6 separate regions of the Homo sapiens genome follow, and all the other regions are linked to region 5. The links come from fine-mapping of genetic effects on gene expression. A gene starts in region 5. Each other region holds a variant in brackets. All regions are shown on one strand. Distances are from middle to middle. Region 1 overlaps FAM168A (family with sequence similarity 168 member A). Region 2 overlaps FAM168A (family with sequence similarity 168 member A). Region 3 overlaps FAM168A (family with sequence similarity 168 member A). Region 4 overlaps FAM168A (family with sequence similarity 168 member A). Region 5 holds the start of RELT (RELT TNF receptor). Region 6 overlaps RELT (RELT TNF receptor).

Region 1 (5,074 bases), 38 kb after region 5:
TACATGGCCGTCTGATAGGGGTTGGGTGATGGGGAGTAGGGGGGTGGAGCAGTGTTACTCTGGGTCGGTGGGACCTTGTATGGTGTCCCCGCAGTATATCCTGTACCAAGGCAATAAGAGAGACTTCCAGTTAGTTGGCAGAAAAGCATTGCTAGAAGGCAGCAGGTCCCAGTCACGACTCCCCAGACAAAGATGGGCTGAATCCAGGCTGGAAACAGAGATGAGAACAAACAGAGAACAGGGCTCCACCCAGAAAGCCCTGGCCCCAGAGGCAGCTCCCTCAGTCCTGGTGCACAGGGCTGCATGGATGATTCTGGGCATCTTTTCTTTCTCTGGGTCTCAGGGCTCTCATCTATAAAATAAGAGGCTAGAACCACATGGTCCCTTTTAGCTCTGACAGCCTGGGATTTGGAGCTGTCTGTGTGAAATGGGCAGGTGCACAGAGATGGAAACCCTCAACTCACTTGCTCTTTATTGCTACTCTACTTGCTTTTCTGTCTTCTCACACAGAATCCAGGGTATCTTTTTGCTGCTGTTTCTGTCTTTCTCTCTTTTGCTCTATTTCTTTTTCTCCTTATCTCTCTCTCTCTCACTCTCTTCTTGGACTTCCCTCCATCATGTTCCCTCCCCTCCCCACCAAGTTTGAAGGTGAAAACCCCATACAAAACACCATTCGGAGACCCTCATCTTCTGGGATGCTGACCATACAAAACACCATTCGGAGACCCTCATCTTCTGGGATGCTGACCATACAAAACACCATTCAGAGATCGTCATCTTCTAGGATGCTGAAAAACTTTGCTCTGCAGAGTTGGCTCCTCCTTCTCTCCTGGGCTCTAGGGGAAGGCCACCTCTGCCTGAAAATACCTGAAGTCAGGGATCACAAAGATTCACATCAACCTGGAACCTGGGCCATGTCTGTCCCTCAGCAGGATGGACAAAAGCTGGAGCTAAGAATGGGGCTGAGAAGTCAGGCCCCAAGAAGCTCACAATTGCCCATGTAAATAAACTGTGCTGCCTTTTAATCCTCCGGAAAAGAGTGACAGATCCTTTGTTCACAGAAAAAAACTTGAAACATGAGTCATTCAGGAACAACACTGTCTCCTTTTAGAATCACAAAATGGAATCGTTCTACGGAACCCAAGTGATCATCAAGGGACTCCAATCCTTGGACTTTACACAAGGGGATCCTGGGCTCAGAAAAGGCAAGTCTTTTTAATAACTTCTCCTAAAGACTCTAAACTCTTCTAAGTTGAAGGGACAGTGCCTGAGGACCTAGGCTTTGAAGCCCTGCTGGGGAGGTGCTGAGGTGGCTTCTTTCCTGTGGTTCCATCTTGGGTAAGTCTAGCAGACCTCACTGAACCTCTCTGGGCTTCAGCTCTTTCACCTATAAGATGCTCACCAAGGACCCTTTCAGCTCCGAGGTGCTGTTTCTATCATATAATAAGGGACTAGGGGCAGAGTGGAGGGAGTGCTTTATTGGAAGAGAAGACATCTAGTCTTCAGTCCTGGCTTTCCCCCTAATTTTTCATGACAATTGTCAAGTCTTTGGGCCTTAGTTTCTTATTTTGTAAAATCAGGTGGCTAAGAATGAAGATCTCTTCCTAAACAAAAATTCCATGGTTCTAAAGATCCTGGGTCTCTTCTACCTTAACCCCAAGTAAAAGCAAACTACCACATGGTCACAAATCTTTCTCAGTCCACATCACACCTCTTTGGCTTAGCACCCCCCTGCCCCTGATGACTCAGGAGGATAGGAGAGCTGCTGCACAGCTGCCACAAAAGTCAGCCTGTTCCTGGATTCACGTCATTTATTTTTTCACCTGCAGATCCATAGTTTTTTCCATAGTTTTGTGATCAAATATGCTTGGGAAATAAGTAACAATGAGGATAGAATGGAAAGTACATATGAAAGAGAGGGAAGCATGTTAAAGAGAAGTAGAAACTAACTGGAAGTGCAACTATGAGCTGAGTGAGAAGTCTAGAGCAGATTTCTCAAAGTTTCTAGATTATGGAGCTAATGATGAAATGTGGTCATAGGAGGAGAAGCAGATACTGTGGGGGAAGACAGGGAGACTAGCTTTGCAGATGTCTAGAAGGAACCATCTGATGTGTACGGAGACACAATTTACTTATCTATAAAATAAAGGGGTTTTATAGATAAACCAGAGATAGACATTTCCCAAATGTGGACAACGTACTATAGATCCCAAGGGATCTTAATAGTTGTTTTTGCCAAAGAAAAGGAAACAAAAGAGTTCTATAGTCCCATATGTAAAATAGAGATAAACAGTTAAGATTTTGTTTTTATTCCATGACCCTGAGAAGTTTTTAAAACAATAGG[A/G]TGGGCTGGATGTGATGGCTCTCACCTATAATCCCAGCACTTTGGGAGGCCAAGGCAGGAGAAGCACTTGAGACCAGGAGTTTAACACCAGCCTGGGTAACACAGACAGACTACATCTCTAAAAAAAGAAAAAAACTTAGCCAGGCATGGTGGCTGGTGTAGTCCCCAGCTACTTGGGAGGCTGAGGCATGAGGATGGCTTGAGCCCAGGAGTCTAAGGCTGTTGTGAGCCATGATCACAACACTGTACTTCAGCCTGGGTGACAGAGCAGGACCCTGTCTCTTAAAGAAGGTGGGGAGGTGAACTGTGAATCTCTAAGATGGGAGTATGTACAAGACTGTATTTTCCAAATTAATTTTACCACAGAATCTTTTATTCATACTATAAACATTTAAAACAATTAAATTTCAGCCATGTTTTTTGTAATTGAAGCTAGTTTTGGTAAACAAAGTTATATTGTAACACATCCACATCCATTCATTTACATATTGACTAAGGCTACTTTCCTGCTACAATGGTAGTCACTGACAGAGAGCATATGGCCTTTTTAAAAGCCTAAATATTTGGCCCTTTACAGGAATGTTTGCTGACCCCTAATTTAAAGGAATATATCAAGGTGTAGAGAAACCTAGCAGAGCTGAAAGCATCCCTTTTCTATGCAGGAGAGTAGGACACCCCTGAATCAGAAGGTGCCTGTTTCTGAAAGCTCTGTAGCACAGAGCCATGGTTATGAGCAGTCTGGAGACAGACTGACTGCCTGGGTCCAAACCCCCAGCTCTGAGACTTAATAGCTATAGGATACATCAGTCTCGCGTGTGATATGGGAACAGTAATGGTACCTACTTCATTGTGATAAATACATTAACTGTTAAGTAAAAAGCACTTAGAACAGTACCTGACATATTAGAAGCACTTTATAAAGATCAGCTATTATTATTTTCTCTCTCACTTTATAGGGACAGTAAGCTTCTGTCCTAAGGGTATGCAGGCAGAGCCTGGTCTGAGAGACTAAAGCTAATCTATGACTACTATGGTCTGTCCCAGCTTGGAACACAGACTCCAGGATTCTAAGATTCTAAAATGTTATGGCTTAAAATGCCATGATTTTATGATTCTTTAAAGTTAACAGGCCAAAGATGCTGATGACTTTCCTTTATGCTCCTGGAGAATGTGCTCTGGAATTTTTCTCTTCCCTGGGGAAGCTGGATTACCCACTGTATGCCACAAGGACAGCCATATTACAAAGTGGTGAGACTATCCCTCTGAGGAAAATCAAAAAGCTCCAAGAGACTGCAGTAGAATTTGGTTCCCACATCTAAGAATAACCTTGTCTGAGAATGTTTCCCTTTCTTCATGTTATGAAATGAGACACACACATACTCAGAATACAAATCAGTAGCCAAAACACCCTTGGCAGCCAAAGAGATGATGCTGCAGAAGAAGGCCTTGCTTGTTTGTCCAGACAGTCTGAGATAGAAGCAGAACTGCAGAGCTAGAAGACTCAGAGATCATTAAGACCAACGTAAACATTTCACAGATGAGATAATGAGTAGTTGCTGAAAGAGAGAGCTGTTTGTGGGGATCTAAGACTCAGTGCTACTTCCTCTAACCACAGTGGTTCTCAAGGTTACCATTTGTCAGGAGGATCTTCATGAGGCTGGAGAAACTGCCTGGGGGCCCTCATCCTAGGTTCTGTCAGTAAGTCAGGTCAATTCCTCTCAGGGAATATCCTCATTTGGACTAGACAGTATCAGAGAACTTCTCTAGTGCTGACATTCTAGGTCTCTGAGTATTTCAGAAGACTTTCATGAGGAAATCATTTCAGAGGACTTTCCATAATTTACTAGTGGTCCTGTCAATACTCTTGAGGAACACTGAAAATTCCCCTGGAGCTATAGCCTGAGCTTGGGTGACACAAAAATCAGGGTTTATTACTTTATGCATCTAAGTAAAAGAAGCTGTTGGGCTTGTTGCAAAAAAGTCTCACAGATTTTGCCCAAATGAACTTAGACTCAGTTCACTCACTGGAGGCCTGGCTATCCTGAAAGGAATTCTAAGTCTGAAGGTCACAGAATTAAGACTTTGGAATGTTGTGCCTGAAGGACATTAGAGGTTTATATTCAACCTCCTCCTTTTCCGAGAAAGAACCTGGAGCCCAGAAGGACAGATTTTCCCCAAATTGTACAGCACATCAGTACACAGCTAGGCCCAAAGTTCAGGGCTCACCCTGCCCTAGGCAGAGCTCTTGCTGAGTTAAAGTCTCTGTAGTCCAATCTTGGGCATTTAATATACTGGCCTTTGTTGTCCCCATTTCACTAAAGGCAATATCATGAAAGAAAAAATGAATTAGATCACTCGAAGTCCCAGCTCTGCCTTATAAAAGAGGCTTTGTTTATGATGTCCTATTCTTTCTCTTAGGTTCCTAACCATAATTTTAGAATCAAATGGGATAATAAAAAGAGTATGTACATTAACAAGATAAAACCTTTTCAGCGCTTTCTGCAATCCTTTTTCACTGTCATAAATCTTTTTCAGTTGTAGAAGCCCTACCACCTTCAAAGGCTTGATCCTTGCATCACGGATGCCTTTTAGACTAATTGGTTTATTGATCATCAGATTTATATGTCTGGACAAAATAAAGCTCTATGTCTGAATCTTGCTTTGACCCCTAAGACTCCTTGTTGGTAGCCAAGTGAGACAGTGATGAATCAGCAGGAGACCTAATTACAA
Region 2 (5,074 bases), 170 kb after region 5:
AACCAATTGCCTTCTTACTATTCCACAAAATGCACCTGGCTCATTCCTACCTCTGGATCTTTCTACTTGCTGTTTCCTCTGCTGAACTCCCTTCTATTATATCTTCTCATGGCTTACTACTTAAAATCATTCAGGACTCTGCTCAAATGCAATCTCTTCAGAGAGGCTTTTCTTGATCATCATCCCAACATATGGTGTTTCCTTATCTTGCTTTATTTTTTATTATGGCCCTTACATTATATTCTTTATTAACATGTTTGTTTACTGTCAGTTTCCCCCACTAGAATGAAAGACTTATGAGGGCAGGAACTTTGTCTTGGTTACAACTGTATCTCCAGCACTTTGAGCAGTGACCACTAGAGCAGGTGCTCATCAAATATTCATTGAATAAATAATTAAATTAGTCCGGGTACGGTGGCTCGTGCCAGTAATCCTAGCACTTTGGGAGGACAAGGCAGGAGAATCACCTGAGGCCAGAAGTTCAACACCAGCCTGTCCAACATGCTGAAACTCCCTCTCTACTAAAAATACGAAAATTAGCTGGGTGTAGTGGTGCGTGCCTGTAGTCCCAGCTACTCGGGAGGCTGAGACAGGAGAAGCACCTGAACCTGCGAGGTGGAGGTTGCAGTGAGCCAAGAATGCATTACCGCACTCCAGCCTGGGTGACAGAGTGAGATTCCATCTCAAATAAATAAATAAATAAATAAGCTCACAATCACAGAGCTCTATAATATTAGTGTAAAAAGGTAGTTGCTATATAATAGAAAGACCACAGGCTTTGAGATCAGGCAGAACTGCATTCAACTTTCTCACTGATTATGATAGTGTAACTTTAGACAAGTGCCTAAACTTCTTTTTTTTTTTTTTCTTTGAGACAGAGTCTCACTCTGTCATCCAGGCTGGAGTGCAGTGGCATGATCTTGGCTCACTGCAAGCTCCTCCTCCCGGGTTCACACCATTCTCCTGCCTCAGCCTCCCGAGCAGCTGGGACTACAGGCGCCTGCCACCACACCCGGCTAATTTTTGTATTTTTAGTACAGACAGGGTTTCACCACATTAGCCAAGATGGTCTCGATCTCCTGACTTGTGATCCGCCCACCTCAGCCTCCCAAAGTGCTGGGATTACAGGCGTGAGCCACCGCACCCGGCTCCTAAACTTCTTTAATCTCCTCATCTGTAAAACAGGTATAAATATCTAGGTCCCATAGATTTGTTATGATGATTAAATGAGATAAACTTATGAAAATGCTTTGTGTAAACTATAAAGTATTATAGAATGTTTATGATGTTTATGATGATGATAGGAGAAAGTTTAGAGACAATCTACTTAAGCCCTTCACTTTAGAGATCACCCCAAGGCCCTAAAAGGTAAAGTGAACTATCCAATGTCCCAGTTATTTAAAACCAAACCATAATTAGACTCTAGGACTTCAGATGATCACACTAGGAGACTTGCTTGGCATTACCCAACACAGATTACCTGATCTCTGGTACTCCACTTTCTCTAGGTTCTTCCTCTACCTCACTGGCTACTCCCTTGATCTTTTCAACTTCTCTATGTTAGAGTGTCCAGAGTTTGGCAGTCCGATCTCTTCTTTGCTCTAAGTACACACATTTCCTAGGTGAGCACATCTACTCCATGGCTTTATATATGCTAATTACTCCCAAATTTATTATCTCCAACTTGAACTTCTCTGAATTTCAGACTTGTATATCCAACTGCCTGAGATCTTTTGGTTATCTAATAACCATTGTAAAAATGTAATATGTCCAAAACCAAATGTCTAACTCCTTCCTGCAAACCTGCTCCTCCCACTGTTTCCCAACTCTATAAGTGGCAATTCTAATCTTGTAGTTGCTCAAGGCAAAAACCTCCGAATCTCCTTTGACTACTTTCTTACTTTCATAATCCTCATCTAATCTATCAGCAAATTCTGTCAGTTCTACTTTCAAAACACATGCTGATTCTAACCATTTCTTGCCATTACTACACTGACTCAAGTCTTCATTATTGTTTTTAACTATTGTAACAGCCCCTGCTTCTATCCTTGCCATCTGCTTATCCTGTCTCTCTCTTCCCAGAAGCCAAAATGATCCTTTTAAATAAAGTTTGGAGCATGTAACTCCACTCTGTTGAAAACCCTGCAATGAGTTATCATCTCAGAGTAAAATACAAGGTCATTACCATGACTTACCAGGTAATCTAGCTCCCTTTATCTAATCTTACCCCATAGCACTCTCCTCCTTGCTCCATACTACAGTAAAATTAAATTTTAGCATCAACATTTGTGTTGTTTAGAAACCATTCTGAGGGGGCCAAAAGCACAGACACCAAGAAGAATATGCAAGCCTTGGATCGCTTAAGCTGAACAACGGGAAAATTCTCCTCTTCTCGTTATTCTTTGAAAAACCAAGTACATTCTCACTTCAAGGAGTTAGTACTTACAGTTCTCTCTGCCTAAAGAATTCTTCCCTCAAATTATCAATATGACTTGCTCCTTTATTTCATTAAGATCTCTACTCAAATTTCACCTCATCAGCAAGGCCTAAGTTAACTGATTATATCTAAAATAGCTCCTACCCTTTCAATCACACCCTTTTCCCATACACTGCCTGTTTTTTTCTATTACTAGGACACAATTGAAAGCACGGACTTTATTTTATTCACTGCTGTATCCCCGGAGCTAAGATCATATTGTAAGTATAATCAATACTAGTAATCAACTTCAGCCATTAATTGTTCTTTTTTTTTTTTTTTTTTTTTGATGGAGTCTTGCTCTGTTGCCCAGGCTGGAGTGCAGTGGCACAATCTCAGCTCACTGCAACCTCCGCCTCCCAGGTTCAAGCAATTCTGCCTCAGCCTCCCAACTAGCTGGGATTACAGGCACCCGCCACCATGCCCAGCTAATTTTTCTATTTTTAATAGACACGGGGTTTCGCCATGTTGGCCAGGCTAGTCTCAAACTCCCGACTTCAGGTGATCCACCCACCTCGGTCTCCCAAAGTGCTGGGATTACAGGCATGAGCTACCGC[G/A]CTCGGCCCATTAATTGTTCTTTAACTATATCTTAAGTCTTCAATCGGGTCTTCCTCTAAACAGACTGAATATTCTTTGAAAATGGCCATTTTCTAGATATGCTAACTGAGTACTTTCAATTTAACCTGATAGAAGTAACCAAAAGAAGGAAAAATAATAAGATTAAGCTATATTTATTTCCTCTGGGACTCTCTTATAATCAACTAACAAATCAGTATTAATAAGCTCTTTTGGGTGCAGAGTACCATCTTAATAAAGAAGGATATCACCAAGCTAGGTAGTAAAGCACAAAGAGATACATAAAGTGGCTCACATCTATAATCCCAGCACTTTGGGAAGCCAAGGCAGGAAGATCTGCTCAAGCCCAGGAATTAAGAGACCAGCCTGGGCAACATAGCAAGACTCTACCTCTACAAAAAATAAACAAAATTAGCTGGGTATGGTGGCACATGCCTGTAGTCCTAGCTAGTTGGGAGGCTGAGGCAGGAGGATCACTTGAGCCCAGGAGTTTGAGGCTGCAGTGAGCTATGATCCCACCACTGCAATTCAGCCTGAGTGACAAAGCAAGATTCAGTCTCTTAAAAAAGAAAAAAAATAGTAACAAGGTGAGCAATGAGCTAATGAAAGATGTTCAGCATCATTAGCCACCAGGGAAACGCACATCAAACCAAAATGATATACCATTTCACATTGAGTAGGTTGGCTAAAAGAAAAAAGACAAATAACAAGTGATTACAAGGATGTGGAGAAGAAAATGGAACCTTCATACACTGTTGGTAGGAATGAATGTGAAGTGGTACAGCCACTGTGGAAAACAAGTCCTCAAAAGGGTTAAACATAGAGTTACCACATGCTCTAACAACTCTACTCCTAGATGTATACCCAAGAGAAATAAGAAACCTATGTCCACATAAAAACTTATATGCTAATGTTCACAGCTACATTACAAATAATAGCTAAAAGTGGGAACTATCCAAATGTCCATCAACTGATAAACAAATAAAAGGTGGCATATACATATGATGAAATATTTAGCAATAAAAAGGAATGAAGTACTGATACATGTAACAACATGAATGAACCTTGAAAAAATATATACAATTACATATATTATATATAATTATATATAATTATATATTTTATATGTAATTATATATAATTATATATTTTATATGTAATTATATATAATTATATATTTTATATGTAATTATATATAATTATATATAATTATATATTTTATATATGTAATTATATATCATATATAATAAATTTATTATATATAATATATATTAAATATATAATATATAATATATAATTATATATATTATATATAAAATATAAAATATATTATATAATATATATTATATATAATATAAAATATATTATGTAATATATAATATATTATATATAATATATATTATATAATATATTTTATATATAGTATATATAATATACTATATATATAGTATATATAATATATATATATTTTTTGGAGACAGTCTCCCTCTGTCACCCAGGCTGGAGTGCAGCGCCACAATCTTGGCTCACTACAACCTCCACCTTTTGGGTTCAAGCAATTCTCTTGCCTCAGCCTCCTGAGTAGCTAAGACTATAGACATGCACCACCACATCCAGCTAATTTTTGTATTTTTAGAAGAGATGGGGTTTCACCATGTTGGCCAGGCTGGTCTCTAACTCCTGACCTCAAGAGATCCACCCATCTAGGCCTCCCAAAGTGCTGGAATTACAGACGTGAGCCACCACACCCAGCCGAACCTTGAAAATATTAAGCTAAATGAAAAAAGCTAGCTATAAAGGCCACATATTATATTATTCCATTTATATGAAATATCCTGAATAGGTTAGTGATTGCCTAGGGCTGGTGGAGAAGGGGACAACAGAGGGTGATTGCTAAAGGGTACAAGTTTCCAATAGGTAACGAAAATATTCTAAAACTGACTGTGGTAATGATTATGCAACTCTATATATACTAAAAACCACTCAACTATACAATTTAAATGAGTGAATTGTGTGGCATAT
Region 3 (5,074 bases), 180 kb after region 5:
GAGCTGGGGTAGGGGAGAAATGAGAGTTACTGTTTAAGACAATAGTGCCACCACTCCTGGCTAAGTTTTTTTTTTTTAATTTTTAGCAGGGATGGGGTCTTACTATGTTGCCTAGGCTGGTCTTGAACTCCTGAGCTCAAGCGATCCTCCTGCCTTGGCCTCCCAAAGTGCTGGGATTATAGGCATGAGCCACCATCTCTGGCCAAAATTAAGTTATTAATTTAAAAATCCTGTATTCATGAATTGGAAATTTTAATATTGTTAAGATGTCACCTCCAAAGCAATCTACAGATCTTATCAAAAGTCCAAAAACCTCTTTTTGTAGAACTGGAAGAGCCAGTCCTCATATTCACATGGAATTGCAAGAGGCCACAAACAGCAAAAATAATCTTGAAAAAGAACAACAAAGTTGGAAGACTCACACTTTCCAATTTCAAAATTCACTATAAAACTATGGTAATCGATACAGCATGGTACTCGCATAAGGACAGGTATATAGACCAATGGAACAGAATCACAAGTCTAGAAATAAATCCATACATCTCTGGCCAATTAATTTTCAACCAACATGCCAAGACTAATCACTAATCAATGAGAAAAGAAAAGTTTCTTCAACAAATGGTGCTTGGACAACTGAATATCTACAGGCAGAAGAATGAAGCTGGACCCCTACCTCAAACCACATATAAAACTTAATTCAAAATTAAAGACCTAAATATAAGGGATACAACCATGATAAATCTTCATGACCTTGGATTTGGCAATGGATTCTGAACTATGACAACAAAGTAAGCAATCAAAGAAAAAATAAACTGGACTTCATCAAAATTTAAAATTTTTGTGCATCAAACGATATTATCAAAAAAGTGAAGAGGCCAAATGTGACAGCTTACACCTGCAATCCCAGCACTTTAGAAGGGCCAAGGTAGGAATTCAACATCAGCTTGGGCAAATAGCAAGACACTGCCTCTACAAAAAATGTAAAAAAGAAAAATTACCCAAGCATGGTGGTGCACATCTGTAGTCCTAGCTACTTAGGAGTCTGAGACTGGAGGATCACTTGAGCCCAGGAATTCAAGGCTGCGGTGAACTATGATCATGCCACTGTACTCCAACCTGGGCAACAGAGCAAGACCCTGTCTCTAAAAAAAAAAAAAAAAAAAAAAAGTGGAAAGACAACCCACTGAATAAGAAAAAATATTTGGAAATCATATATTTGATAAAGGTCTGGAATCCGGACTATATAAGGAACTTTTATAATTCAACAACAAAAAGGCAAAAAAAAAAAAAATTTTAATGGGCAAAGGACATGAATAGGTATTTCTCTAAAGGTATACAAATGGCCAACAAGTAGATGAAAAGATGCTTAACATCATTTATTAATCATTAGAGAAATACAAGTCAAAACCATAAGATATATTATGCCATACTCATTACAATAGCTATTTATTTTTTAAAAAAGAAGAAGGAAATAAGTATAAGCAAGGATGTTAAAAAATATGAACCCTCAAACATTGTTGGTGGGAATGTTAAAATGGTGCAGCCATTATGGAAAAGTCTGGCAGCTCCTCTGCTAGTTAAACATAGAATTACCATATGACCCAGCAATTCCATTCCTAGGTATACACTGAACTAAAACAGGTACTAAAATAAATACATCTACCCACATGTTCATAGCAGCACCTTCACAATAGCGAAAGATAGAAACAACTCAAACGTCCATCAGTGGACAAACTGTAGCATATCTATACAATGTAATATTACTCAGCCATAAAAAGCTTTAAAAAGTAATGAAGTACTAGCCGGGCGTGTTGGCTTATGCCCGTAATCCTATCACTTTGGGACGCCGAGGCAGGTGGATCACCTGAGGTCAGGAGTTCGAGACCGGCCTGGCCAACATGATGAAACCCTGTCTCTACTAAAAATACAAAATTAGCTGGTCATGGTGGCAGTCACCTGTAATCCCAGTTACTCGGGAGGCTGAGGCAGGAGAATCGCTTGAATCCAGGAGGCGGAGGATGCAGTGAGCCGAGATCGCGCCACTGCATCGAGCCTGGGCAACACTGGCAGTGACCCAAGATCATACCACTGCACTCCAGCCTGAGCGACAAGAGTGAAACTGTCTCAAAAAAAAAAAGTAATGAAGTACTGATACATGCTACAGCATGAACATCAAAAACATTATTCTGAGTGAAAGAAGCCAGATGCAAAAGGCCACACATTATATGATTTCTTTTATATAAAATATTTACAATTGGTAAATCCATAGAGATGAAAAGCAGATTAGTTGCCGCCAGGGGCTAGGAGGGAATAGGAATGGGAATGACTGTTTAGTGGATACAGAACTTCTTTTTAGGGTGATCAATGTTTTGGAACTAGACAGAGATGGTTGTTGCACAACACTGGGAGTGTATTAAATGCCACTAAATTGTTCACTTTAAAGTGGTTAATTTCAACAATGATATATAAATTTCACCTCAATCCCTCAGTCAATAATGAGAATCCTCCCTTCACACAAACTTCCCAAAAATTGTTTTGTTATCTTTCTTCTTCCCATTGCCAAGTTGTAATCAAGCATTGCTTGATTCTTGGCAGGAAAAAAAACAGCACTGAGGAGTTGCCACAAATGAGAACAATGTAAACAAAATCCTCAGTACCACTACTGCAGCATTAAATAAATCCAAGCAGTTATATCCACAGAATTAGTCTCACTTAAGAAAAGGCCAATGAAGGTTTTTTTCTTGTTGTTGTTTTCTGAGACAGAGTCTCACTCTGTCTCCCAGGCTGGAGTGCAGTGGCATGAACATGGCTCACTGCAGCCTCGACCCCTCGGACTCAAGCGATCCTCCCAGCTCAGCCTCCTGAGGAGCTGAGACTATAGACATGTGCCACCATGACCATGCCTGGCTTTTTTTTTTTAAAGAGATGGGGTCTCACTATGTTGCCCAAGTGGTCTTGAAATTATGGCTTCAAGCATTCCTCCCACCTCAGCCTCCCAAAGTGCTGGAATTATAGGCATGAGCAACCATGCCCAGTCTCCAATGAAGGTACTTTTGCTAAGGTGTGTGAAGA[T/C]ACCTGTTGCTGGGATCAGGAGACATGAAAAAACTAAGAAAAAAAATACTGAGAAAAGTTTTCAATAGCTTTGTAAGCCTTCAGAATGTAAAGTACATTAAGAAATAAAAACTTAAATGCAGTGGGTACAAACATGGCAAATCTGAAAGCTAAACCTGACTAAGGCTATCAACCTGCCATGTGCTAAAAACAAATGTACTCACTCAGAAAAACTGAAAGAGGTACTACATACCTATTAAAACAGCTAAATTTAAACAGTGATAATACTAAATGCCGACAAGTATGCAAAGAAACTGGACTTCTCATACATTTCTGGTAGGAATGTAAAATGGTACAGACACTCTGGAAAATAATTTGGCAGTTTCTTATAAAACTAAACATGCAGCCAGGCATCGCTGCTCACACTTGTAATCCCAGCACTTTGGGAGGCCAAGGCGGGCACATAGCCTGAGACCAGGAGTTCAAGACCAGCCTGGCCAACCTGGTGAAAATGTCTCGACTAAAAATACAAAAATTAGCCAGGCATGGTGGCACACACCTGTAGTTGCAGCTACTCAGGAGGCCGAGGCTGGGAGAACTGCTTGAACCTGGGAGGCAGAGGTTGCAGTGAGCCAAGATTGCGCCACTGCACTCCAGCCTGGGTGACAGAGCAAGACTCTGTCCCAAAAAAAAAAAACAAAAAACAAAAAGACCGGGCGCGGTGGCGGTGGCTCATGCCTGTAATCCCAGCACTTTGGGAGGCTGAGGCAGGCGGATCACCTGAGGTCGGGAGTTCGAGATCAGCCTGACCAACGTGGAGAAATCCGTTTCTACTAAAAATACAAAAAATTTGCCAGGCGTGGTGGCATGTGCCTGTAATCCCAGCTACTCAGGAGGCTGAGGCAGGAGAATCGCTTCAACCTGGGAGGTGGAGGTTGCAGTGAGCCGAGATCACGCACCATTGCACTCCAGCCTGGGCAACAAAAGTGAAACTCCATCTCAAAATAAAAAAAGTTATCCTTCTCTCCTAGGCTTCCAAGAAATTCAGGGGTAAATTTGTAGTTCACCTATAGCAACTGGGGAGACATATATATATATATATTATTCTATTTTCAATAGTACTCAGGGTTTTTCTTTTTTAGGTTATTTTATTAGATTACTTTTGTAAACTACTCTCAATCCCTTGTGGAATAAATACAAAGACCACACAAACGTGGTAAATGCTACTCTGTCCCTAATAAGTACATTAAAATTATTCCATAGAGAACTAGAAATGGCATAGCCATTCACTCTTTTTTTAAGCATCTGATCATATAAGTAGAGTCATTCACTTTTTTGTTTTTTAATTCACAAACCAAGATCTTTATGAGGCCTCCCTTCTTTTACTGAAATAACTTTTACTTTTATATCTGTATCAACTAAGGGGTAAAAGTGACACTTTAGTCACTTTGGACAATAAAAATAAATTTTTAGATAATTTTAATACCCTTTTATCCCATACGATTCTTGATCTTGAATTTCAATTCTGCAATCTTAGGACTGTGGTTTAAAACATTACAGGAGGATTTTCTTTTTTTTTTTCCAAAGACTGAGTCTCACTCTGTAGCCCAGGCTGGAGTGCAATGGTGCAATCTCAGCTCACTGCAACCTCCACCTCCCAGGTTCAAGCAATTCTCCTGCCTCAGCCTCCTGAGTAGCTGGGATTACAGGCGCACGCCACCACGTCCAGCTAATGTTTGTATTTATAGTAGAGATAGGGTTTCACCATGTTGGTCAGGCTGGTCTCAAACTCCTGACTTCGTGATCCGCCTGCCCTGGCCTCCCAAAGTGCTGGAATTACAGGCGTGAGCCACCGCACCCAGCCTACAGGGGAATATTTACAGCTGTATGACCTCTCTTCATCTCTCTGACCCTCATCATAAATGAGGATAGTAACACTTACGCTGAAAGGTTCTTTTGGGGATTATATAATATATGCAAATTATCTAGCAGGTCCTTATAAACAGTATCATTTGACTCAGAC
Region 4 (5,074 bases), 220 kb after region 5:
TACAGAAGTTTTGTTAACACTGGTCGAGAGTAGAACTGACACATATCTTTTTTTTTTAAACAGCTCCTCGGGTGATTCTAAAGAGTAGCCAGATACTACCTGTCTAAATAGGTTGAAGACTACTGATTAGGCTGGGTGCAGGCTCACGCCTGTAATCCCAGCACTTTGGGAGGCCGAGGCAGGCAGATCATCTGAGGTCAGGGGTTCAAGACCAGCCTGGCCAACATGGTGAAATCCCATCTCTACCAAAAATACAAACAATTAGCCGGGCATGGTGGCACGGGCCTGTGGTCCTAGCTACTCAAGAGGCTAAGGTAGAAGAATCACTTGAACCTGGGAGGAAGAGTTTGCAGTGAGCAGAGATCGTGCCACTGTACTCCAGGCCGGGAGACAAAGCGAGACTCTGTCTCAAAAAAAAAAAGAAGACTACTGATTTAACAGCTTAAAACCAGGAAGATTTATATGCAGTACAACAAAAAGAACAATGGCTCTGGAGCAAGGCAGATCAGGTTTTTAAATACGAGCTTTTCTTCTCTTACTAGCTATGTAAACAAATGCAAACTAGTTAATCACTATATGCCTCAGTTGCTTCAGTTTCTTCTTCTGTAAAATGATCACAATTCCTTATACGACACAAATATGAGGATTAAATTCTATCTATAAGGAAAAGAAAGCACCCAGCATACTGCCTGCCATAGACACTCAAATGTTAGGTACCTTTTGTCTTTCCCTGCTAATTCCCTACTTGTCTTATGGCCTAAGACAAATTACCCTCTTGAATCTTTTTATTCATTTATTTATTGAGATATAGTCTTGCCCAAGCTAGAGAGCAGAGGTATGATCATAGCTCACTGTAGCCTCAAATTCCTGGGCTCAAGTGATCCTCCCACCTCAGCCTCCAAAATAGCTATGAACAGAGGTGCACGCCACCACATCCAGATAATATTTTTGTTTTTTGTAGAGACTGGATCTCACTATGTTGATCAGATTGGTCTTGAACTCCTGGGCTCAAGCGATCTTCCCACCTTGGCCTCCCAAAATCCTGGGATTACAGGTGTGAGCCACTGCACCCAGCTACCCTCTTAGAGTCTTAATTTCTTCATCCTTAAAATGAAAATAATGCCACATGACCAACCTAAGAACTATATATAAAATGGCGCCATTATATTTGCATAAGTATAAATAGCATAGCTGTTATCTACTGATAGAGACATTTGCTATCAACTCAAAATAAAAGATAGAGGAAGACACATTAGAAAACTAAAATACTTAGAAAAATTATAAAACAGAGGCTAGAAAAGAAATACAAGTTAGCAGAAATCGTCAAGCTTGAGCGACATGATCAGAAGGCAAATCAAGATCATAATCTCAAGTAGCCAAGGATTGAAGTTTACTGTGAAAAATATATCATCTCAGGGTTCCTTCAAAATGTCTATATCTAAGAAAAAGCACAACCTATATCATCATAAAATAGGCATATTCTGAAAGGACCCAGACACCTGCCTAACTGGCAGGAGGAGGAGGTGTATTGGAACTTTATAAACTGAGGTTTTCTCAGAGTGTCTTCATACAGAAAATAATGGCTCATTTAATAAAATGTTAAACTTTTAGATAAACATAATTTGACAAAAAAATTCTATACCATTGTTTTCAATACTAAAGATATGCATAACTGTCCAAGGAAGTAAATTTAACAAAATAGAGAAAGAAATATGAACTTGGTTTAGTCTCTTTCCTCTTCAATATTTTACAACTTTGAGTTGATTTCTGTTAACGTACCAGGGGTCGGCCAGCTATGGCCCGCCCATGGCCTATTTTTGTATGGCCTGTGAGTTTTACATTCTTAAAACCACATAAAAGGAGGAGAAAGAGAAGGGGAGGGAGAAGAAGGAATGGGGAGAAGCAAGAGGAGGGGCTTCAGGAAGGAGAAGAACGGGGAGGGAGATGGGGAGACAAAAAGGAAGGGGAGTGGAAGGGAGGAGAAAGAACAACAGAGGCCATATGTGGCACAAAATATTTTCTACAAAAAGCATTTGCCAGCCAGGCATGGTGCCACATGCCTGCATTTGTAAGCACTTTGGGAGGCCGAGGAAGGAGGATCACTTGACCAGGACAACATAGCGAGACCCTGTCTCTACCAAAAAAAAAAAAAAGTGTTACTGGGTAATAGGACTAAAAACAATACTTATGCTTCTTTTTACTTTTTGTAATTTCTAGTTTTTATCATGAGCACACATTATTTAATGGTGGAAGAAATAAAGCTTTTTTAAAAGTTAAAAAATAAGAATAAGAATAAAGCAAGTCAGAAGAATATTTATCCTATAATTCTATTTATAAAAAGTTGCAAAGGTAAAAAATATACTGTTTAGGGATATGCACATATTTGGTAAAAGTATAAAGAAAAGCAAAGAAATGATTCACATAAAATTTAGGAAACTGTTTATCTCTGAGGGAGAGAGAAGATGGGAGATTCAATCAAGTAGGACCTCACAAGAGGCTTTAAAGGTACTAGAAATCTCCTTTTTGTTAAGCTGGGTAGCAAGTAGAAAAGCCTTCAATTTGTTATTCTTTAAGTTGTGGGTTTATGTTAAATATACTTTTATACATATGACATATTTTACAATTTAAAAAAAGGATATAAATGGGGATGACAAATTAGAATTTGGGGGCTGTAACCCAGACTTTTCCACTGACTGTGTAACCTTAAACAAGTCATTTAACCTCTCAGAGCATAATTTTTCTTCTTATTTTATTAATGAGGAAGCTAACAGCTAACATCTGTTTAGGACTTTGGCATTTAAAGAACTGTTTAAAGTTCCTAGACTGTAAACATGCAAATATGCATGAGATCATAAAACAAAA[T/C]CATACCTCATTAATAAATACCACAATACTAAGAACTCATTGGTAGGGCACACAAGGCTATTCACCATTCTAGCCTCTGCCTATCTTTCTAACAATAAAGGCAACAACTAATTTTTTTAATGTGTACTATAAAACATATTGTGTGAAATGCTTTCCATTGATTATCTTATTTAATCCTCAAAACAATCCTATGATGTTAATTCTATTATTCGCACTTTACAGATGAGCCCATTGTGCCCAACGTCACACAGCTAATAGTAAGTGGTAGACAGACTTCAAAACCCACATTTAACCATAGCATTCATTTTGCCTCACTTTTCTCACCGTATTTGTCTATCTTTCCCATGACACTGAAAGCTCCTTGACAACTGCTTTCTGTTCATTTTTATTTCCCCTGGCACTTAGCAGACATTCATTAAATAAATAAATAGTGAACAGATATTTCATATATGTACAGTGTTTTCAGGACATGAACTGGTTTGTTCCCCTTGACAGCCTTGTGAAGTATGAAAGTTTGATTGTGTGACAGGGTCTCATTCTGTAACCCAGACTGCAGTGCAGGGAAGCACGATCATGGCTCACTGCAGCCTTGACCTCCCTGGCTCAAGCAATCCTCCCACCTCCCTCCTGAGTATCTGGGATTACAGGTATACGCTACCACACCCAGCAAATTTTTTTTTTTTTTTGTGGAGACGGGTCTCCCTATGTTGCCCTCACTGGTCTCGAACTCCTAGGCTCAAGCAATACTCCCAGCTCAGCCTCCCAAAGTCTGGGATTATGGGCGTGAGCCACTATGCCTGGCCAGTTTTTTTGGTTTTTGAGGTTTTTTTGTGTGTGTATTTTTACCTTTTTAACCAAAGTTAAGTGTACAATTCAGTGGTATTAACTATGTTCACAATGTTTTGCAGCCATTACCACTAAATATGAAAGGTTTTTTGTTTGTTTTTTGTTTGTTTGTTTTGAGACAGAGTTTCGCTCTTGTTGCCTATGCTGGAGTGCAATGGCGCAATCGTGGCTCACTGCCCACCTCCCCAGTTCTAGCAATTCTCCTGCCTCAGCCTCCCAAGTAGCTGGGATTACAGGCACGTGCTACCAGCTAATTTTTGTATTTGTAGTAGAGATGGGGTTTTGCCATGTTGGCCAGGCTGATCTCAAACTCCTGACCTCAAGTGATCCACCCACCTCGGCCTCCCAAAGTGCTGGGACTACTGGCGTGAGCCACCACGCCTGGCCATCTGAAAGGTTTTTAATGACTTGACTGAAATCACTCAGCTTTCAAGTAGTAGAACTGGGATTTGAATCTGGGACTCAACTCCTAAACTCATGGGCTATTCGTTCCACAAAGGCTTCTGTCTATCAATACCTCCATCTGCTCTCTTCTCACCAAGATATCGGGAGGATCAAATGAGGTAAAGATACAAAAACACATTACTACTACACAGGTAACCACGGCTGTGGAAAAAAAAAATCCACCAACACATTTCTCCCAGGCACTTTTCATTTTGGGCTTTCAAAAGCTAGGGCTTTAATATAAACATCCCACCTCTAGACCAAGCCTGCAGATCTGCAAAAACAACGTCTAGACCTCAGAGTAAAGTTATGAGAGAAATGCTCACATTAGATTACAGTCTCACTGAATTACAGGTAACTGCTCAAACCTGATCTTTATTATAATACAGAAAGCTTCCTCATTACAAAACACTTTCAATTCAAAGGATAAGTCCAACGTTCCATCATTCTGCCCATTTTGGAGCTAAAAAAAAAAGATTCTAAATGGTATTTTTATATGCTCAATCGTGAAAGCCAAGGAAAATGGTTTGTTTGCGAGCTAAATTCTGAAGCTTGAACAAAAATAAAAAGAATTATTTCGATCCCAATGGTGCCAATTTTATCTTCTTTACATCCCTCCTCATTTTTTTTCAGTCTGAGCTCTAATCAACAGCCACTTTATGTTTAACATATTATCACAGTTAATGCAATTAGGTCCATAGAACTGTTTCTCTAAAGATGTTCCCTCCATTTGCACTCCTGTGTACCTTCCATTATCATCGTTCTGCCCTAAGAATGAGCATATCGCTAAGGTTTAAATCGAATTTCTGATGAATAGGTGGAGATGCTGTTTCTGTAGTTAATACAATGCGACTACATCAACATCATTCCCCAAAAAATAAAATAAAAATGACTCAATATGCTTTATTTATTCACATCTGAC
Region 5 (5,074 bases):
TACTTCCTTTTGGAATTCTAGCACAGCCAGCAAGCAGAGTGGCACCCACTACCTTTGGTCCATGACTCCAAGGCAGTCATCTACTCAGACCCCTGCATACAGCCACACTGTGGTGGCTCTGATTCTGTGACCCAGGATCCCCACCCCAGGCAGGGCCTGGCTGGGGCATGGCACCTGTACCCCTGCCTCCAGGTCCCCATCACAGCTCGTCCCAGTTTACTGGGACCTTGTGCTGTGTACCTACAATGAGGTGCACACATTCTCTGGGCCCACTTGCCCAGCTGTACCATGTGAAGTTCAACAAGATGGTCTCTGAGGTCCCTGAGCTCAGGGATTCCAGTGCTGACTCCATGGGTTCAGTTGAGATGCCAGGATTTTATAAAGCCTGTGATTCTGAGAGTCCTTTGTTCTCAAGCCTGTGGTTCCCCAAGCTCCATAAAAAGCGAGTCTAAATCTTTCCTGTGGCTTCCACAACTCCTTCCCTGTCTACTCACTGTGGAGCAACCCAGATGCTGGTAGACTCTCAGGGAGGAGCCCACGTCACAGTGGTTTCAGGGTCAGAGCTGGCTGCAGGAGGAGCTGGCGCATCCACCCAGCAGTAAATAATAATTAGGCTCCCTCCTAACCTGGGGGTTGCAGGAGCGAGAAGTGTTTGGGCTGTGGCCCCAGGAGACCTACTCTATGGAGCTGCTGCCAGGGCAGCCAGGTAGCCGCCTCCCACAGAGAACTTCAGGCAACATGTCTGGCACCCCAGTTTTCAGATGAGGAAACTGAGTTGGGGGTGGATTTGATGAAAACCTCACAGAGAGCTGGTGGTAGAGAGGGGCCTGGACCCTCTCTGGGATGTCTGATTAATAGCCAGTGCTCCAAAAAGCATTTCCCCATTTAGTTTATTGATTGAGACAAGGTCTCACTCTCTCACCTAGGCTGGAGTGCAGTGGCACGATCGCGGCTCACTGCAGTCTCAACTTCCTGGGCTCAAGTGATTCTCCCACATATTTTTGTAGAGACTGGGCTTCATCATGTTGCCCAGGCTGGTCTCGAACTCCTGGGCTAAGTGATCCTCCCAACTCAGCCTCCCAAGGTGCTAGGATTACAGGTGTGACCACTACACCTGGCCTTCCCCATTTGGTTTATTGAGTGACGACACCTGAAATTGCCACCATTTGAACTCTAGAACCTAGAGCTGGGGTGTAGATGGTCCCCTTACAAAGAAAACATTTCCAGGAGTGGAGGCATTCTGGATGCTCTGGCCTTCCGTAGGCTGGGATGTGGGACCCTGGAAGAACCCCTGCCCCAGCCCTGGAGGTCTCCATTGACATATGAGGGTGCTGATGTCATGATCCTGACATCAATGACCTGTAGCTCCTTATGCCCTTCCCCCACAACCTGAGCATGACCCAGGGAAATGAAAACTCATCCCCTGCTCCCCTCCCCATGCGGTGTCCAGTTCGCCTCCTGGAATCTCCTGGACCCTGGGGACCTGACCTTTTCCGTCTCCTAGCCCCTGGGTTCAGATTCTATGACTGTTTAGAACCCCACCCCCAGCCATCTATCCCCAGCTGACTTATTTACCTTCCTTTCTCCATCTCTGTCATGGGCTGTGATTATCCTGACCCCAGCCAGGCCTCTGGCCCAGCACTAGGTCCTCCCTGGTGTCTCAGTCTCCCATCAGCCCTACTGTCCCAGGAGGACCGCCTGAGATCCCCTGAATAGTACTGAGAGGGGGAACGGGCCACTGAGCTGCTCCCTCCAGTCCTGGCACACCCTGTAGCACAACTCCAGGGGACACGATTCGGAGTCGGAATACAGTGTGAATACTGCCTGGAGTTTGTGATGACTGGCATTGGAAACTGGCAGGGTGGGATGGCTGTAGTAGGGAGGGGGGCACTGAGTCACCTGTCCTGCTGGAGGGAAACTAACTACCCTGGCACAGAGAAGTGGTGCGGGGAGTAGGGGAGTGGAGGCAGGAGACGCCTCCTGGAGGATTTCACTAGGCCTTGAAGGATGTGCCGAAGCCCACCGTGTGGGCTTCCTTTATAGACTCACCTTCACCAGGCCTTTTCGCCAACTAGGTGAGGGTTTCCAGGGTTGGGCCTGGGCCTCGTCAACAAAGCAAAGTGAGGTTATTCTTCCTGGCCACCAACTGGCAGGAGGAAGATGAAGCCCAGAAAGGGGCAGAGGTGGCTCTAGTTACACTGGCAATGCTGAGAGGACCCAGAGGAGTATCTCAGTCTCCAGTCTCTTTATCTTGCTTCGCACAACTCCTTGCTTGGTTCAGAGCCTTGAAGAGGCGGATACAAGAGGCCCTCTGGGCACCGCCGCCCAGTCCCGCGCAGCCCCCTGCAGTTCCCAGGGGCGCGAGAGAGGGCGACGTAGAGCAGCACCGCCCAGCGGCAGAGCGGCGAGCCCCTCCGCGGCTCGGGGTGAGTCGGGCGCGGGGCGCAGACCGCGCTCTGACGTCGGGGGCGGAGCGGCCGTGACGCGCGGGGGCGGGTCTGCGCACCTTCCCGGCCCAGCCGGCGATTCATTCAAAAGGCGCGCAGGCTGCGCGGCTGTCCGGGCGCTCGCCGAGCCGGGCCGCGGCGCCGAGTCGAACGGGGAGCCGAGCTGGAGCTGCCGCGGCGCAGCCAGGTAAGGAGGGCGCGCGGAGCGCCCATCCAGAGTCTGCTCTCCGCGGCCGGGCCAGCGGGATACGGACCCTAGTGGCGCCCCCTGCCTCCCCGTGTCTCTGAGGAAGTTCGCGGGCTCGGCGGATGCGGCAGCCCGGCCGCGCGCCCCCCCACCCCACTCCTCCCGCCTCGCGTCCTGTCCCGGCGCCTTCCGCGCACCGGCCACCGCCAGTCTCCGAGCCCCGTGACCTGCAGGTCCTCCGGCCGCGACTCCGGGCCGGCCCTGCGTGGTGGCTGTCGGGGGGCGCGCGGGGAAGCAGCGGAACTTGCGGTGTGAGGGGCCGGCGGGGCCCGGAGCGGTCCCCGGCCCGGGAAACTTGGACCGAGACCAGGTTGTGGTGCGGGCTGGACGGCGGCGCCTCGGCGCGGCTGCGGCGCGGGGCGGCCAAGGGGGGGTCTGGATGGTGTCAGCCCGTGACTGTGGGTGACACGGCGCGTGAGGCGGCCTGGCCGGGCGAACGTGTGGCTGGGACACTGGGCGGTGACGCCGGGCCGAGCGGGCGACACAGAGGGGCTCTGTGTGTGGGAGACAGGCAGCGTGTGTGCGTGTGTTGTGTGAGGGAAAGACCCGGGGTCACTGGGGTCACGAAGTGCGTGGCTTGGGGCGTGACCGGCGCAGGGCCAGGGCCACCCGTTACTGTGAGTGTGAAATAGAGGGAGAGGAGCCCAAGTGACTGAGAACGAGCCGAGCTCGCTGGCGCCATGGTGTGCGTGTGGGGTCAAGTGGTGTCAGTGTGTGTGTGTGTGTGTGTGTGTCTGCGCCTAGGGTGATGATGAGTAAGAGGCAGGAGGAGGAGGGACCGGACCTAGGACACCTTCCGGCAGATGTGGGGCGATGAGGAAGTTGGGGAGCCAGGAGACAAGGGTCTCCAGGACTGTCCCCACGAGGGCACCCCTCAGGAGTTCAGCTTGGTGAGGAGATGGACCCTGAGGGATAGGCCCTGGCTGAGGGAGAAAGCCGAGGCTGGGCAACATCTGGTGGGGTGGCCCAGATGGCAGCAGGGTAGGGGCCCTGTGGTAGTCTCAGCTTCCCCCCGCCCACCTGCATCCACACACTCACGCATCGAAGTCCCTACACCTGGCAAAGTTCTGCCCCTGTGTAATCTGTATTCTCAGCGGACCCGGACACAATCTTGTTCTCAGACCCCCCCGCCCCCCTCCCCCGCGCAGGCCTCAGTCTCCCCATCTGCACACTGAGGTGCTGGGCTTTGAATGGACTGTGAATCATCACTTTGGGATCCTCTATTGTTTTGGGTCAACTGCCTGTGTTCTCCCTTCCCTTCAGGCAGAAAGACTGCAGTGGGGGGTGGGGGCAGGCTTCTCCTGGGGACACAGCGGCCCAGGGGCTGCACTCAGGGGCTACTGATAGGGTTGGAAGCACAGCCTTCTCCAAAACTGGTCAAGGAAACGTTAGCCTCCCACCCAAAGGCTTCCTGGTCCTCTGTCACGAAATGGATCCATAGACAATATGGATCCCCAAATCCATAGACATTCACTTCTCTGCCTGGGTGTCCTTTCTTCAGTTCCTTGGGTTGGGGGAGAGTGGGGAGAGACTTGTTCCCCAGGAGTGGTCTCTGGTCTGGGAGGCTAAGTTCTTGCTGGAGAGCTGGAGCGGTACCCTTTCGCCATCTGGGCAAGACCCTTCTGAGGCCCCTTCTCCCGTATGAAGGTCTGTGGGGTTCATGCAGGGTGGGGTGGAAGCTGAGCTCCCTAGTCTAGGAGAGGGTGGCACTTGCTGTAGAATCTGGAAGTTCTGTCTTCTGCTGTCGTCCTCTGAAAATGCTGATTACATTCTAGGGGTGGGGGACAGGGTGGGGGACAGTGTCAGGCACTGTTCTGAACACTTCATGGTGTTCTGTCTTGTTGAATCTTCGCAGTGATTCTGAGATGTAGTGACTGTGTTTCAGAGAAAGGAACTGAGGATCAGAGAAGCAAAGTGACTTGGCCAAGGTCATACAGAGTCAGGACAGTGCCAGGACTGGAATTCAGGTCTTCTGACCCCAGAGACCAGTGAGATGCTGGGAGAGAGGATCACCCACCTTCCTAATAACTGCTCATGGCTTTCCTGGACTTCTGTCTCTCAAACTTGGGCTAGTAGGCGTGGCCTAGCCAGGGCATTACATTGTGAGTTCTAAGTATGATGTGTGTGTGTGCACACATGTCTGGAACACTGGGGATGGGTGGGTTACATGGTCTTCCTGTTCCTCCCCAGACTTCACTCCCAACCAGACATCACCAGAAAGTCCTGTCCCCTGCCTTCTAGAGCCTGGACCTGGCTTTGGGGGTGTCCCCATGGCTTTGAAGAGTGTATGGAGTTAGCAGCACAGCCTAGGGGTAGCAGGGAAAATTGAGAGTCCCAGGTGACCTTCATCATACTTGAGAGGCCCCCTCCCCTTTGCAGT
Region 6 (5,074 bases), 21 kb after region 5:
GTGTCTGAGGTGAAGACCATCACGGAGGCTGGGCCCTCGTGGGGTGATCTCCCTGACTCCCCACAGCCTGGCCTCCCCCCTGAGCAGCAGGCCCTGCTAGGAAGTGGCGGAAGCCGTACAAAGTGGCTGAAGCCCCCAGCAGAGAACAAGGCCGAGGTGAGAGTCAAGGAGAAAGGCATCTGTTGGCACCTGGGCCAACCCTGACCGAAGACGGGGCAGGGGTGGAAGTGCAGCGGGCCCTAGGCAGGGGCCACTTTCCTGGAGCCAGAAGCCAGCCCCTGACTCAGCTCTGACCCCTCACCCCTGCCCACCAGGAGAACCGCTATGTGGTCCGGCTAAGTGAGAGCAACCTGGTCATCTGAGGGGCGGTCTAGTCTAAGGACACTGCGGCCCTGCCCTGGGAGGTTCCGAAGGCTTCCTGGAGGAGGTGGAGCTGCAGCTGGGACTGTGAGGACCGAGAAGCAATGGCCCAGCAGACGAGACAGCAAAGACCAAGGCCTGGAGGTGGGAGCGTCTGCCCCAGTGAGGAGGCAGGTGGCCGGCGGGCACTGTGTACAGGAGCAGGCTGAGCCCCGCCCCTGGCCCTGCTGCCATGTTGCTCCCCTGAAGGATGCCCCGACCCCCGTGCCTGCCCTGGCTGGATCCTAGGAGCCCACGGGATTCTCTGTATCATCAGAGGCTGGGCTTGGCAGAGGGGAGGGGCCTGTGCCCGTCACCCCTGGCCCCATTCCTTGGTAATTAGCCACACCCTTGCCTCTGTACAGGGCCCTAGAGCAGATGTGCGTCCCCCTCCTCTTCCAGCAGGTCTATAAAGGGAAGGGGTAGCAGAAAGTCCTGGGCTAGGAGAGTGAGTCCCTGGGTTCTAATCTTGGGCACATCTGTGGCCATCGCTGGGTCCATTTTTCTGACTGTGAAGTAAGGAGAGACGTCTCAGTACCCAGGGCCTCTTCAGCTCTTTGTAGGTTCTGGGCTGGGTTGTGGGGGACTGGGGAGCTGGGCTCTACCATCCCTCCCATTAGTAGCTTTATCCAGCCCCGTTTTTGCTGCTTCCAGGGCCTCTGCCTTCAAGGCCCCCATGGGGCTGTCCATCCATGGCTCTGCCTACGGAAGGGGCTTAATGCATGTGCCTGCCCCTCCCCCAGCTGTTTTTAATGAAACTGAAAAAATAGACTTGATCCCGGCAGGACTGTGATACAGAGCCCTAGCCTGCCCAGCCAGCCCCAAGATCTCAGGAGCTTTAGGGAGAAGACTTGGTGGGGCTGGAGCACACCTTGGGCCTCAGTGGTTTCTGTGTCCCTGTGGTGCCAGTGCTTCTGGGCAGTGCAGGCGGCTGCCAGGCCCAGCCCTGACTTCCACTCTGGCTCAGCAACCTGGTTATTTATGTGGGGCCGTGCAGGCATGGGCCCACTGCCTGTCCATCCTGTTTCTCTTATTTATTGAAACTCACCATTGCCCTATCCTTGTGTCTCCACCCCCTTCCATGTGTTGAATAATAAAAGGTGGGAAAGTGCTGTCACGAGGAGCTCCTTTTCTCTGTGCCCTTCCCAGCTTATCCGCCTGTTCCACTTGTACCTGTCCAGCCCTGCCCTGTGTTGGGCACCGTGACAGGCTGCCCTCCCCTCACAGTTCCTGCACCTCAGCAGCCAGGGAAGCAGGGCCCAGAGGAGACCCATCAACTCATCTGGTTCTCACCAAAGCCCCTAGCTAGAGGCAGGGCTGTCCCACAGAAATAGTGTGAGCCACATATGTGACTTTAAATTTTCTGACAGTCACATTTCAAAAAGTAAAAAGAAGCAGGTGAACTTAATTTTTTTTTAACCCAGTCTATCCAAAATATTTTCATTTCAATATAAAATCAGTATAAAAAGTGTGAATGAGCTGTTTTTGCTTTTGCTTTGAAATCTGGAGTGTATCTTACACATCTTGATTGGAACTCAAATATTTCAAGGGCTCCATAGCCACGTGGCCAGCAGCTACCACACTGGTCAGCGCAGCACCTGAGGAAATGCACTGTGTGGAGCCCGGGAGGTAATTGGGGGTGAGGAAGATGTGCGGGCCAGGGAATGTGTTCCACAGAGAGGGACAGCATGTGCAAAGGCTGAGCACCAACACATAGTGGTCACCTGGGCCTTATGCCCAGGGAGCCTCCAAAGCATTCAGCTCCTGCTTGGCCAGTGTGGAGAGGAAAGGAGCCACAGGAGCGGGTGCTACACCCGGCAAGACAGAGCGTCTCCATCTAAAATTCCTAGGGCAAGCTTCCAACCCGGCCCAAGGGCCGCATGTGGCCCAGGATATGGCTTTGAATGGGGCCTAACACAAATTCATAAACTTTCTTAAAACATTGAGATGTTTTTGCTTTTTTCTTTTCTTTTTAGTTCTTCAGCTATTGTTAGTGTTAATATGCGGCCCAAGAAAATTCTTCCAATGTGGCCCAGAGAAACCAAAAGATTGGACACCCCTGTGCTAGGGTTTGGTAATGGGAAATGGGTCGGGGGCTTAGGGCCAGCTGG[G/A]TGGGGCAACAGGAGCAGTCCTGGGGGCACCTGTGACACAGCCATGGAGGATGTCCCATGCCATCCAGATGTGAAGGCCCAGAGCTCTCAGGAGACAGACCTGGAGACAAGAAGACCTACAGGCACTCAGGTGGGTGTTTAGGCCAGGACTGGGCTGGGAGGAAATGTCCTGGGGACGATGCCTGGGCTGCTCCAGGGCACCACAGAGAAGGCACTGCTAGGGAGGCAGGAAAGAAACCAGGGAGGGCAACGTCCGTGGCAGTGTCCTGGCAGCCAGGGGAGGGGTGGGCGCAGGGTGGGCTGCAAGGCCAGGTGCTGCTGGGGGGTGAGGAGGACTGCTCTGTGCCCTGGTGAGTGGCACAGGAACTTGGTGGGATTCGCCTAAAGGGAGAGGGGAGACCAGGGCCAGGGCCAGGTGGATTGAGGGAGACAGCTCCCTGCCGAAGCCTGGCAGGCCATAGCTGGGTGGGGCCTCAGGCTCTGGGGAGAGACAATTTTCAGTTAATTTAGGGTTTTATTGTTTGTTATGTTGTCTAAAGACGGGAGAGAGGGACACATTTAAACTAACGGCCTCAGAGAGAGGCTGAAGAACAAGAGTGACACCTGATGGAACCTGGGGAGGTGTGGAGAGGACCAGCCTGTGGGAGTCCCCGGCCTGTCTGCAGCAGGCACAGGGCAGCTATGGGGCGGCCATGCTGGGGCTGTCGGGAGGCCTGGCTTCACAGGGGGCAGGGGCCTTTCTCCTGAGCAGAAGCCAAGCTGGGGGCCTCCTCCTACCCTGGGCAGATGTGCTTTGGGATTTGACTCTCCTTGGGTACCTAGGGCACAGGTGTCTCTCTCCAGGGCTTTTCAGGTGGGCAGGAAGGGGAGGGACACCTCTGAAGATCCAGGAGATGTTTCACCTGCACCAGAAGAGGGGAAGGAAACAGAGGCTGGACATCAGGAGGGATGTTCTGGAGCAGAAAAGGATGCCAAAGTGTAGGACAGGGTGTCCATTGTAGGGGACTAGCAGGCATCACCAGTGTACCCAAATAAGTATTTCCTGCGGCTGCCAGAGTGTGTTTGGAGTCCCTATTTGCCAGCTGCTCAGCTGCATCTCAGGGTCTGGCCTCTCCACCTTGACTGGCCCTCAGCCTCCTTCCCCAGGGGAAGGCTGGGCTGTGGGGTCTAGATGCCCTCTCCACAGCCTGCCTGTCTCGCCTGGGCAGAGGTACATACACATGCAAGCCAGGGTGCACCAAGGCTGGGTGCAGGCTTCCAGGCCAGGGCTGAGCGCCCCCTCACAGTAAGCACTGTGCTCTCCTCCAGACTCCCCCTCCCCAATTTCTGCTTGCTGAAAGGTGTGGCCCTGGCCTGTTTCTTCACCTGTCCCTTGGGGTATTGAGGCTAGCTTGCAAGAGTGGGATGAAGAGCTGAGGGCTCAAGTAGGAGTGTGTCTGATGCCCTTGGTCTTCAGGGTCCTTACCCTCACCTGGAAGCTTTTCTGGCTTGTTCCATCTAAATCCCTGAAGCTTTGTCAGCGCTTGAGTTCAAGAGGCCCACGCGGAGGTGGGAGCTGGAGGACAGGGTGGGGTTCTGGGCTGACCACTGAGGGGAAGAGTTCTGAGCTTGACCTCTGTGCTCCACCCCTCTTCCCTATGGGCCAGAATGGTAGGGGCTGGGACCCAAGTCTCCACCTCCCCTCCTGCTCCTGGCCCTCAGCTCTGCCACTGTGACCTGGAGCTGAGCCTCCCTCTGGGAGAAAATCCCTTCCTGCACCGGAGAAACTGACTATGGTGACTCAGCCCCAACAATGCCTGTGGCCAGAGGTGCCCCCTCGGACACTGGGGGTGGGTTTCATATTGGATCAAGGACAGGAAGGGAGGCTGGGTGGAGGCACACGGTGAGATTTGGTGAGAGGCATTAGAGAGTAAGGAGGCCTAAAAGTTTTCATTTCAGCTGCAGTGTGAGCCAAGCTACTTGGCCTCTTTTGGCCTGTTTCCTTTCCAGGTGAGGAGGCTGAGTTCTTGGAGGTATAGCTATGGGGATGTGGAGCATGAACTGTAGGGGCCCGGCCCTGGGAAGGAATGGTGGACAGATAACCCAGTAAGAGAAGCCTGGGCCTGGGCTAGGGCAGTGGCTTCACCCAGAGGGGAGATAAGAGATTCAGATGATGTTTAGGAGGCAAAACTGATAGCACTTGATGGGACTGCTTTGGATGAAGGCGCCAGAGCCTCCCTCAGCTGTCCTTTTTCTGTAACCACAAACCACCAAGTGCCCCTTGGTTTCCCATCTGACAAATCCATCTTTTAAGAAAGCTCAGGGCGCTGGGTTCAGTGGCTCACACTTGTAATCCCAGCACTTTGGGAGGCTGAAGCAGGCAGATCGCTTGAGCCCAAGAGTTCAAGACCAGCTTGGGCAACATGGTGAAAGCCCGCCTCTACAAAAAAATACAAAAATTAGCTGGGAGTGGTGGTGTGCGCCTGTAGTCCCAGCTACTCAGGAGGCTAAGGTGGGAGGATCACTTGAGCCCAGGAGGTGGAGGTTGCAGTGAGCTGAGATTGCGCCACTGCACTCCAGCTGGG

Evidence for each region.
Region 1: its variant is fine-mapped to the expression of RELT in whole blood (INTERVAL, PIP above 0.99).
Region 2: its variant is fine-mapped to the expression of RELT in whole blood (TOPMed, PIP above 0.99).
Region 3: its variant is fine-mapped to the expression of RELT in whole blood (TOPMed, PIP above 0.99).
Region 4: its variant is fine-mapped to the expression of RELT in whole blood (TOPMed, PIP above 0.99).
Region 6: its variant is fine-mapped to the expression of RELT in whole blood (INTERVAL, PIP 0.96).

The regions. Positions count from the first base shown.
Region 1 is chr11:73,411,437-73,416,510 of GRCh38, forward strand. It overlaps FAM168A (family with sequence similarity 168 member A), which reads right to left. Exons shown (of 8, transcript NM_015159.3): 5 at 1-100. Among named protein-coding and RNA genes, the nearest start is that of RELT, 38 kb to the left of the region's middle. The variant A/G (reference allele first, on the strand shown) is at 2,345.
Region 2 is chr11:73,540,520-73,545,593 of GRCh38, forward strand. All of the region lies in intron 1 of FAM168A (family with sequence similarity 168 member A), which reads right to left. Among named protein-coding and RNA genes, the nearest start is that of FAM168A, 55 kb to the right of the region's middle. The variant G/A (reference allele first, on the strand shown) is at 3,034.
Region 3 is chr11:73,557,326-73,562,399 of GRCh38, forward strand. All of the region lies in intron 1 of FAM168A (family with sequence similarity 168 member A), which reads right to left. Among named protein-coding and RNA genes, the nearest start is that of FAM168A, 38 kb to the right of the region's middle. The variant T/C (reference allele first, on the strand shown) is at 3,073.
Region 4 is chr11:73,590,734-73,595,807 of GRCh38, forward strand. The region is part of intron 1 of FAM168A (family with sequence similarity 168 member A); the gene reads right to left. Among named protein-coding and RNA genes, the nearest start is that of FAM168A, 4.8 kb to the right of the region's middle. The variant T/C (reference allele first, on the strand shown) is at 2,863.
Region 5 is chr11:73,373,866-73,378,939 of GRCh38, forward strand. It overlaps RELT (RELT TNF receptor), which reads left to right and starts at 2,534. Exons shown (of 11, transcript NM_152222.2): 1 at 2,534-2,634. RefSeq lists silencers at 2,254-2,563, 2,594-2,883, 2,974-3,053 and an enhancer at 3,219-3,513.
Region 6 is chr11:73,395,130-73,400,203 of GRCh38, forward strand. RELT (RELT TNF receptor) reads left to right here. Exons shown (of 11, transcript NM_152222.2): 10 at 1-156; 11 at 315-2,345. The coding sequence ends at 362. Among named protein-coding and RNA genes, the nearest start is that of RELT, 21 kb to the left of the region's middle. The variant G/A (reference allele first, on the strand shown) is at 2,511.